Regions from separate parts of the Homo sapiens genome. Here regions 1 and 3 are each linked to region 2. Evidence: fine-mapped expression QTL. A gene starts in region 2. Each other region holds a variant in brackets. All regions are shown on one strand. Distances are from middle to middle. Region 1 overlaps ENTREP1 (endosomal transmembrane epsin interactor 1). Region 2 holds the start of ENTREP1 (endosomal transmembrane epsin interactor 1). Region 3 overlaps ENTREP1 (endosomal transmembrane epsin interactor 1).

What was found. PIP is the estimated chance that this variant, and not a neighbour inherited with it, causes the effect.
Region 1: its variant is the best candidate, but not a certain one, in a credible set for the expression of ENTREP1 in stomach (GTEx, PIP 0.64).
Region 3: its variant is the best candidate, but not a certain one, in a credible set for the expression of ENTREP1 in skeletal muscle (GTEx, PIP 0.61).

What each region holds. Positions count from the first base shown.
Region 1 is chr9:69,358,263-69,360,940 of GRCh38, reverse strand. The region is part of intron 2 of ENTREP1 (endosomal transmembrane epsin interactor 1); the gene reads right to left. Among named protein-coding and RNA genes, the nearest start is that of ENTREP1, 34 kb to the right of the region's middle. The variant T/C (reference allele first, on the strand shown) is at 1,416.
Region 2 is chr9:69,323,606-69,326,283 of GRCh38, reverse strand. It overlaps ENTREP1 (endosomal transmembrane epsin interactor 1), which reads right to left and starts at 1,069. Exons shown (of 11, transcript NM_001347995.2): 1 at 561-1,069. The coding sequence starts at 974.
Region 3 is chr9:69,378,018-69,380,695 of GRCh38, reverse strand. All of the region lies in intron 6 of ENTREP1 (endosomal transmembrane epsin interactor 1), which reads right to left. Among named protein-coding and RNA genes, the nearest start is that of ENTREP1, 54 kb to the right of the region's middle. The variant T/C (reference allele first, on the strand shown) is at 1,610.

The sequences.
Region 1 (2,678 bases), 35 kb before region 2:
TCAAGTTTGAATAGGATAAAAATATTTTTACTTTTTTTTTTTGCAATTTACATGCAAGATTTTTTAAATGTGTTTTTAATATACCCTTTTCTCAGAAATCTACTACAGGATGCTCCACCAAAATTTGTGGGGAGTGAGGGAAAAAAAGAAGCTATGGAATCCAGGAAACAGGGATCCATCTCAAGAGAGGTTAAGGGAACGCCCAAGATAATGGTGAAAGGATGATAAAGATGATAGTAACATGCAGAGCCTACTGGGAAGCCAGTCCAGATAGAGCAAGTCAAAAGGCTCCAGGAAGGATGAAAGTGACAGAATATCCAACAGATGTACTTGAATATATGGAAGAGGGACTTAAACAGTAAGAGGATGGTTGACATTTGTATCAATAATAACAGAAAAATGAAGCAAATGAAGAAGGACCTTTGAACAAGTTAACCTTTGTTAACTTGAAGAAAAATAAAATATTTTACTGGAGAGGAAAGAGGATAGTCAAAATAAAATAAACACTGAAAATTGCTCTGACCAAAATCATGATATAACTTTATTGAGAAAGGGACTATAAAAGTACGTGTTGGGGCAGAGGGGCGAAATGTAACAGAGAAAGATTTCCTAATTGTCTACAATGCCTAAGTGACTGATTGCCTTTGGAAATTGGTTGAAGTGATTGTGTTTTGAAAATGGGACAAGGAACTGAAAATTTCTTCTTCAGACTTACAGCACTATTTGACCCTTTAAACCATGTGCACATATAACCTTGACAAATGGAAAAACTAAATTTAAAGCATAAAATGGAATAAAAAACATGAACTCGGAGTGAGATAAATGTGTGTTTAATTTCCAGCCCATTGGCTTACTAGCCGAATAATCTTGAGCAAATTACTGAAACTCACTGGGTCTCACTTATTTACTTATAAAAAATGAGTGATACCTCAAATGGCTGTTGAAAGGAACAACCAAAAAAAAAAAAAAAGCAAAATAAGAGCATGTCTATAAAGCTGCCCACAGCAGTGCCCAACATGTAGAATGCGTTCAATACATCTCTCCTCAACAAATGTACTTGTCAATTCACAAACTTTTAATAGATCAGGAACTATGGCCATCTCTCTGTCTTCCTGCCCATCCTCCAGCTTAGTACTTTTTTCCTTCTCCTTTCATGAAGTTGTCATCCCCATCTAGCCTGTAACTGTCCTCACTGTCCCACTCTCAGTCCTCACACCTGTCCCTGACCTTTGCCATCTGTGTTAGTCCATTTTCATGCTGCTAGCAAGAACTGCCCAAGACCAGGTAACTTATAAAAGAAAGAGGTTTAATTGACTCACAGTTCAGCATGGCTGGAGAGACATACAATCACGGCAGAAGGTGAAGGGGAAGCAAGGCAACTTCCTCACAAGGTAGCAGGAAGGAGATGTGCCAAG[T/C]GAAGGGGAAACAGCCCCTTATAAAACCATGAGATCTCATGAGAACTCACTCACCATCATGAGAACAGGATGAGGAAAAATGCCACCATGATTCAATTATCTCCACCTGGTCCCTCCCTTGACACGTGGGGATTATGGGAATTACAATTCAAGATGAAATTTGGGTGGGGACACAAAGCCTAACCATATCACCATCTCACCTCAAGTTCTTAGTATGCTCATTGGTGGATGTGGGTATAAATCAACTTCCCAACTGGGTTTGGCCTCTGTCACATCTGTCTGGCATCACATGCAGTATTCTAATAAGAAAGAAAGGCTTTGGCTGGGTGCAGTGGCTCACGTCTGTAATCCCAGCACTTTAGGAGGCTGAGGCGGGCGGGTCACTTGAGGTCAGGAGATCGAGACCAGCCTGGCCAACATGGTGAAACCCCGTCTCTACTAAAAATGCAAAAATTAGCCAGGCACGGTGATACACGCCTATAATCCCAGCTACTCAGGAGGCTGAGGCAGGAGAATCACTTGAATCCAGGAGGTGGAGGTTACACAGTCAGCCGAGATCGTGCTGCTGCACTCCAGCCTGGGTGACAGGGTAAGACTCCGTCTCAAAAAAAAAAAAAAAAAAAGAAAGAAAAAGAAAAAGAAAAAAAAAGGCTTTATTAATGCTTTAAAAAATTTTTCCTTAACAATTAAATATGTTCAACAAATGTGATGCTTCTTTTTAAATTATCAGAAATAACATATATTTTTCCTAAATGTTAACAATGAATTTGTGCACGTACATGTGTTGTTTTTATTTAAATATGAGCAGTTCACCAAATTATTTCCTCATGAGAAGAAACTTCTAAGAAAGCAGGAACTTTTACTTCAAAAGGTGCTAATCCCACCCTAGAATTCTTCTCTTTCACACTCTGTTTTGTCTTTTAATTCCCCAAGAAAATATTACTGGTCTTCATTTAATCATTGTGCCCTTTTTTTCCCCCTCATATGCAGCCTTTTGATACTGCTACAAATAAATGTTAAAAAATGCTTTTCTCCAGTGGGGTAGAAAATCTGAAACAAGAACACAAAAACCTAAGTGGTGGTAAATAATACTGAATGAATGAGTCAGTCAACCAGTCAATGAACAAATGAAAGAAAATCTATTCTTTCTGATAAGTGCTATATACAGGTATCATATATTCTTACTAATATTCTAGGACATATACAGACAGGCCTCAAAGGCAAACACCTGCTTGACTATCACTGCAAGCATGAAAATGGCTA
Region 2 (2,678 bases):
CCTCATTACCTCCTGAACTCGTCTGGGGGTCGAGCCACCCTACACATTTCACATTTACGTGTGTCTTAATGCAGAATAAAACAAGCGATGTGCCCCAGTCAAACTGTCCCATCTCACAAATACACCTACTATGTGCCAGGCATTCTTGATACATCAGTGAACAAAAATGATCAAAATCCCTGCCCTCCCAGCACAGACGTTGTCAGTGCAGCAAATACTCAATAACCAAAAGAAGTTTAATCATTTTCCTCCCACTTTCCTGCCACCCACACCCTGTCCTTCCAATCTCCCAAAGAGCTGGGTGTCTTTAATTCTATTAGCTTGACAGGGAAAATAAAATTCTTCAGCCTGCGCGCAACAGACACTACCCAGGTGCAACCCAATTCACCCCTGAACTCGACCGTCGCGGAACATTTTTCTCCAGCCTCCAAAAACTTCAGGTGGCGTGAGGCTCCCCCAACTGCAGCCCTGGAGGCCAACAAAGGGGCAATGGAGAGGAACGACCAGAGCCCCCTATCACCGGGATGACCGGGCGAACGGGGCGCGCGCGCGGTACTCACCGAGGAGCCGGCCCAGAACGGGCACGAGTTCTTCACCTGCGGGGAGCTGCTCAGCGACAGCGCCCCGAAGCTGAGCGCCACCATGCAGCAGCCCAAGATCAGCTGAAGCAGCCCAAGTGACAGCAGCGGGCGGGCGGGCAGCAGCGCGGAGCCCGGGGCCGCGGCGGCAGCGGCGGCGACTGCCCGGCGGGAGGAGAGCGCCGGCGGCGCGGCCAGCACCCCGGCAGCAGCGGTGGCCGCGCAGCGAGGCCGCGACGGGGGCTGCAGCGCGCCCCGGGGCCAGCGCGGCCGCAGCGGGGGCAGCGGCGGCTCCTGAGCGGCGGCGGCAGCGGCGCCCGGGCCCCCGGCCTGCGGCCCACCCGAAAGCCCAGCCACGGGGCAGCAGGAGCCCGGGAGCACCACGGGCAGGGACATGGACGGACGGGGAAGGGTGCGGCCGGGTGCGGCCGGCTGCGGCGGGCAGAGGACGCGGAGCGGAGCCGAGCCGAAGGCGCAGCACACTGGGCACTGCAGACGGGCTCCGAGGCCGAGGGGGAGGGAAGGAAATGCGCACGGCCCAACCACTTGCTGCCGCCGCTGCCGCTGCCCTGGCTCCAGCCGGCCGCACCCACCTGCCGCCTGGCGGGTCCGCCTCCCGCTGGCCCTGGGCGCACCCTCACTCTCACCCACGCGCACTCCGTGCTCGCGCTGTGCCGGGGCAAGTGCGCCACAGCCTCAGGGTCCCCGCCGAACCTGCGCCGGCTTCCTGGGGTCCTGGGAGGGTGCCCTGCCCCAAATATTTAAGTAAGTCCCTCGAGGTGGGAGGCACCTCACGGCCAGGACACGTCAGCGCCGGCCACCGAGAGTCTCAGCGTCTGTCCCCACCCGCCGAGCTGGGGCTAGAGAAGAGCGAGGAGCCTTCTCTGTCCAGCCACGAGAGAGGCCCTGGCGCGCTTTAGTGAGAAGGGGGCCCGCCCTTAAACTTTTGCCCAAGGAGGGGGATGCCTGGAGGAGGGGCTTTGGGGCGACTCGATGGGAAGAGGTGTAAGCCAAGGACTTCGGGAAGGACGACGCCGAGCGCAGTTACCGCTCACAGGGCGCAGGACGTGCCTACCTCGCATCGGCGCGGGAGTGCTTTCCCGGCATCTCGGTAGGAGCGGGAATGAAAGGACTGGGTTACCTTGGAAGCATCCAGCATCCGTAAAGAAAGTACCCGGGGCAGCCCGGAGTGCATGGCAAGTGTAACGCTCTGTCCTCTCATTGACTTATGAGCTATATCAGGCATCTATTAGGCATCACCTGATAGAACACGGAACCCCCAAACTTCCGAGGAAATATCCTAATAAAATCCTAAACTACTCTGGTAATTTATGAAAAATCTTTAGAGCAAAAAAAAAAAAAAAAAAAAAAAAAAGATTCCTCTTTGCAAAATGAATTCCCTTAATAATATACTTTTCACCTCGGAAGAATTCTAATGCGTAGAAAGTTTCGTGCCTAAAATGATTATAATGGACTTTTTTTCCTGATAAGAACCAGAGCAGTGTTCTTTGCAGTTAGTCAGTTCCAGTATTAGAAAGCTTATCTTACCATAAGGTATTTAACATCCTCCTACCCAATAAACCAAGAAAAGTATGTGTCAGTTTTTATGCTCTGCTTGTGGAAGCTGGATTTATATTGGTCGTTACACTTTAACCCAATGTAATATACTGTCAATGTGCCCAAGTTTACATGCACACTTCTTAAATTATTAAAGCACTTGTCTTTAATGGTGCCTAGGACTTCCTTTACAGACTGCTCCCATGAATAAATTCAAATTCTGGAGGAAAAGGGAAATGTCTTTCAAAATAAGTGTTTAAAGTCTGTTGATTCATGCAGGGGTTTTTTGTTTTGTTTTGTTTTGTTTGAGATGGTGTCTCGCTCTGTTGCCCAGGCTGGAGTGCAATGGCGTGATCTCGGCTCACTGCAACCTCCGCCTCCCGGGTTCAAGCGATTCTCCTGCCTCAGCCTCCAGAGTAGCTGGGACTACAGGTGCCCGCCACCACACCCAGCTAATTTTTATATTTTTTAATAGAGACGGGGTTTCACCATGTTGGCCAGGATGGTCTGGATCTCTTGACCTCGTGATCCGCCCGCCTCGGC
Region 3 (2,678 bases), 54 kb before region 2:
CTGAGAACAGAGACACCCTGGAGTAGCGGAGGTGGGGTGGGGTGCACGGCCCCCTCCTGTATTACAAATCAATTCACAAAGTAGCGAACCCATCTTTGGACAGAAACCTCAACTGCAATCAGACTTCTGTTTATGACAGTAACTCGAGAAGCCTTTTCTCAAGGAGATGCCAACGCATGAAGTGGTTGTATTTATAGAAGTTAAACAAACCTCTTCTGAGAGGTCATAATACCTTACAGGAAATGGGGAGCCTCTGTTGTGTGAAAACTCTGGATAAAACTGGTCATAAAATAGTAACAATCATGAATATTCTTGCCTGCCTGCTTAAAAGAAAGAAAATTACCAACTGAGGTTAAACCATGAGTGTCTATAAAGTTGATTTATACCGTGAATCTAGAAAAGTTGGTCACATTGTGAAATATTTTTGATAGGACATGTATCTAAATGTGAATAAATTCAGCCCTTTTGAAAAGGAAAGTGGACTGCACTCTGATATTGGTAAAATTTCCAAAAATAAAGGTGTTTGCCCATTGGCAATATGATTATAGGGCTCTAGGCACGTATTTTAGACTGGGCAATGTCTTCTTTCTCACAAGACTGTTTTGCTTTAACTCCCTCCTTCGGCCTTCTTTCTAGAAAGTTTTGAAGGATAAAGCCCTTGATGAGAAGCTTGTCTGTTTTCTTCCAACCTGGATTTGGCCAGAGGCTGTCTCAGGACTCAGAGAGACAAATCCGAGGATGCACCTAGATCTTAAAGAGTGGAAATATCTGCAGTGATGAGCATTATTATGGTGAAGCAGAGAAGAGAAAGGAAAGCGAGGAGACAGGAAGGTCGGGAGTGCTCAGAGCACACTGCTGGATGGCTCGGCTCCTAAACCCACATGAGTCACTTTCCCTTTCTGCCACTGCAGAAACTAAATCTGTCTGCTGCCTCCTCCTAGGTCAACAGAGTGCTCATCCGCAACCTCAGTGTCAAAGAATTCTTCTTATTGGAGAGGGTATTTCTCATCCCCACCATGAAATATCAGTCATTTTTTACTGTCCTCCAATGTACCCTCTACAGACAGCCTGAGACGGCGCTAAGATTTTTGCAAATGTGTCCTCAGGTACAGAAAGAACATGTGTTTTGCTGCCATATCTCTTCAGCCTCTGTCATTCTTGGCTCATTTCCTGAAAGATTAAGGAAGCCATCCCAGCCCCTGAGGCTTTGAAATTCCAGTAGAGGCCACTCCCTGAACACCAGAGAGGCCAAGCTGTCCCACAGGCCTAGCCCAGGCCACCTGTCACCCAGCTGACATCCCCTCCAGCTTTGCAGTCATCTCTGCCCCTGCCTGGGCAAGTGAGCTGGGGAGGGTATAGACGTAGGGTTCAGGTATAACTGAGGGACGAGTCAGCAGCTAAGCCACTGAAAAGAACACTAACAGTGTCTGGGTGGCAGCCCCACTGGTGACCTATCTCAAAGTCACATACCATCACCCTGGACATTAGAAAATACTTCTCTAAAAACCTCAAGCTCAGCACCAAGTTAGTTTGATAAGTCTCTACATGTACTACAGGGATTAAAAAATAGAAATTTCTGGCCCTCTGAATATGAAGCTAAAGACACTAG[T/C]ATTTCTGTGGAATTAAGAGATTCTCTTTCAAAAAGTTCAACAGATGTTTGCTTATCCTTTAAACTCAGCTTAAGTTCACTTCATCCAGGAAGCCATCTCTGACTGCCTTGCCACTCTGGGTTAGGTGTACCTTCTCTGTGCACCCAAAGTCCCTCTTTTGAATATTACCGTGATCCTTCCAACACACATTTTAATGACCTAGACTGTGAGCTCCTTAATGGTAGAGGAGGAAGCAGGTCTAGCTCATTTTGAATTCCAATAACCCAGCACAGAGGATTCCACGTTTGTTGAATGAATAAACGAATGAAGTCATTCTTTTTTTTTTTTTTGAGACAAAGTCTCGCTCTCACCCAGGCTGGAGTGCAGTGGTGCGATCTCAGCTCACTGCAAGCTCCACCTCCCAGGTTCATGCCATTCTCCTGCCTCAGCCTCCCAAGTAGCTGGGACTACAGGTGCCCACTACCATGCCCGGCTAATTTTTTTGTATTTTTAGTAGAGACGGGGGTTAGCCAGGATGGTCTTGATCTCCTGACCTCATGATCTGCCCGCCTCAGCCTCCCAAAGTGCTGGGATTACAGGTGTGAGCCACCACGCCGCGCCTAAATGAAGTCATTCTTTAAAAAAAGGTTTGATTCTAGAAGTTGCTAACAATCAGACAGATGTATGCGGCATTTCACTGTACCAATAAAAATCCTTGATATTTAAGAAGGTCAAAATTTTAAGTTTGAAATTTGAAAAGGAAAATAAGTATGGTATCTATTTTTTCTAGACCAGGGAGAGACAATTAATAATTAATCTCTTTTTAATGGCTAGGAAGAATTTCTTGATTGTTGAGACCTGCTGATGGTATTACAATGAAACATCGATTTGGCCTAACTGGGAGTGTTTCCAAGGCAACAGCGACTCTCAATCATGTCAAATTACAGCTGTTATCTCCCTGGGTGTCAGTTTCCCTTAGAAAGCTAATTGAAATTGAAAATGTCTATCTTCAGGCCAAAGTTTAACTTTTCTTTGGATTCATCTGTTTTATCAGACAAAAAGAGAAAGTAAGACAGAAAACAGAGAGAG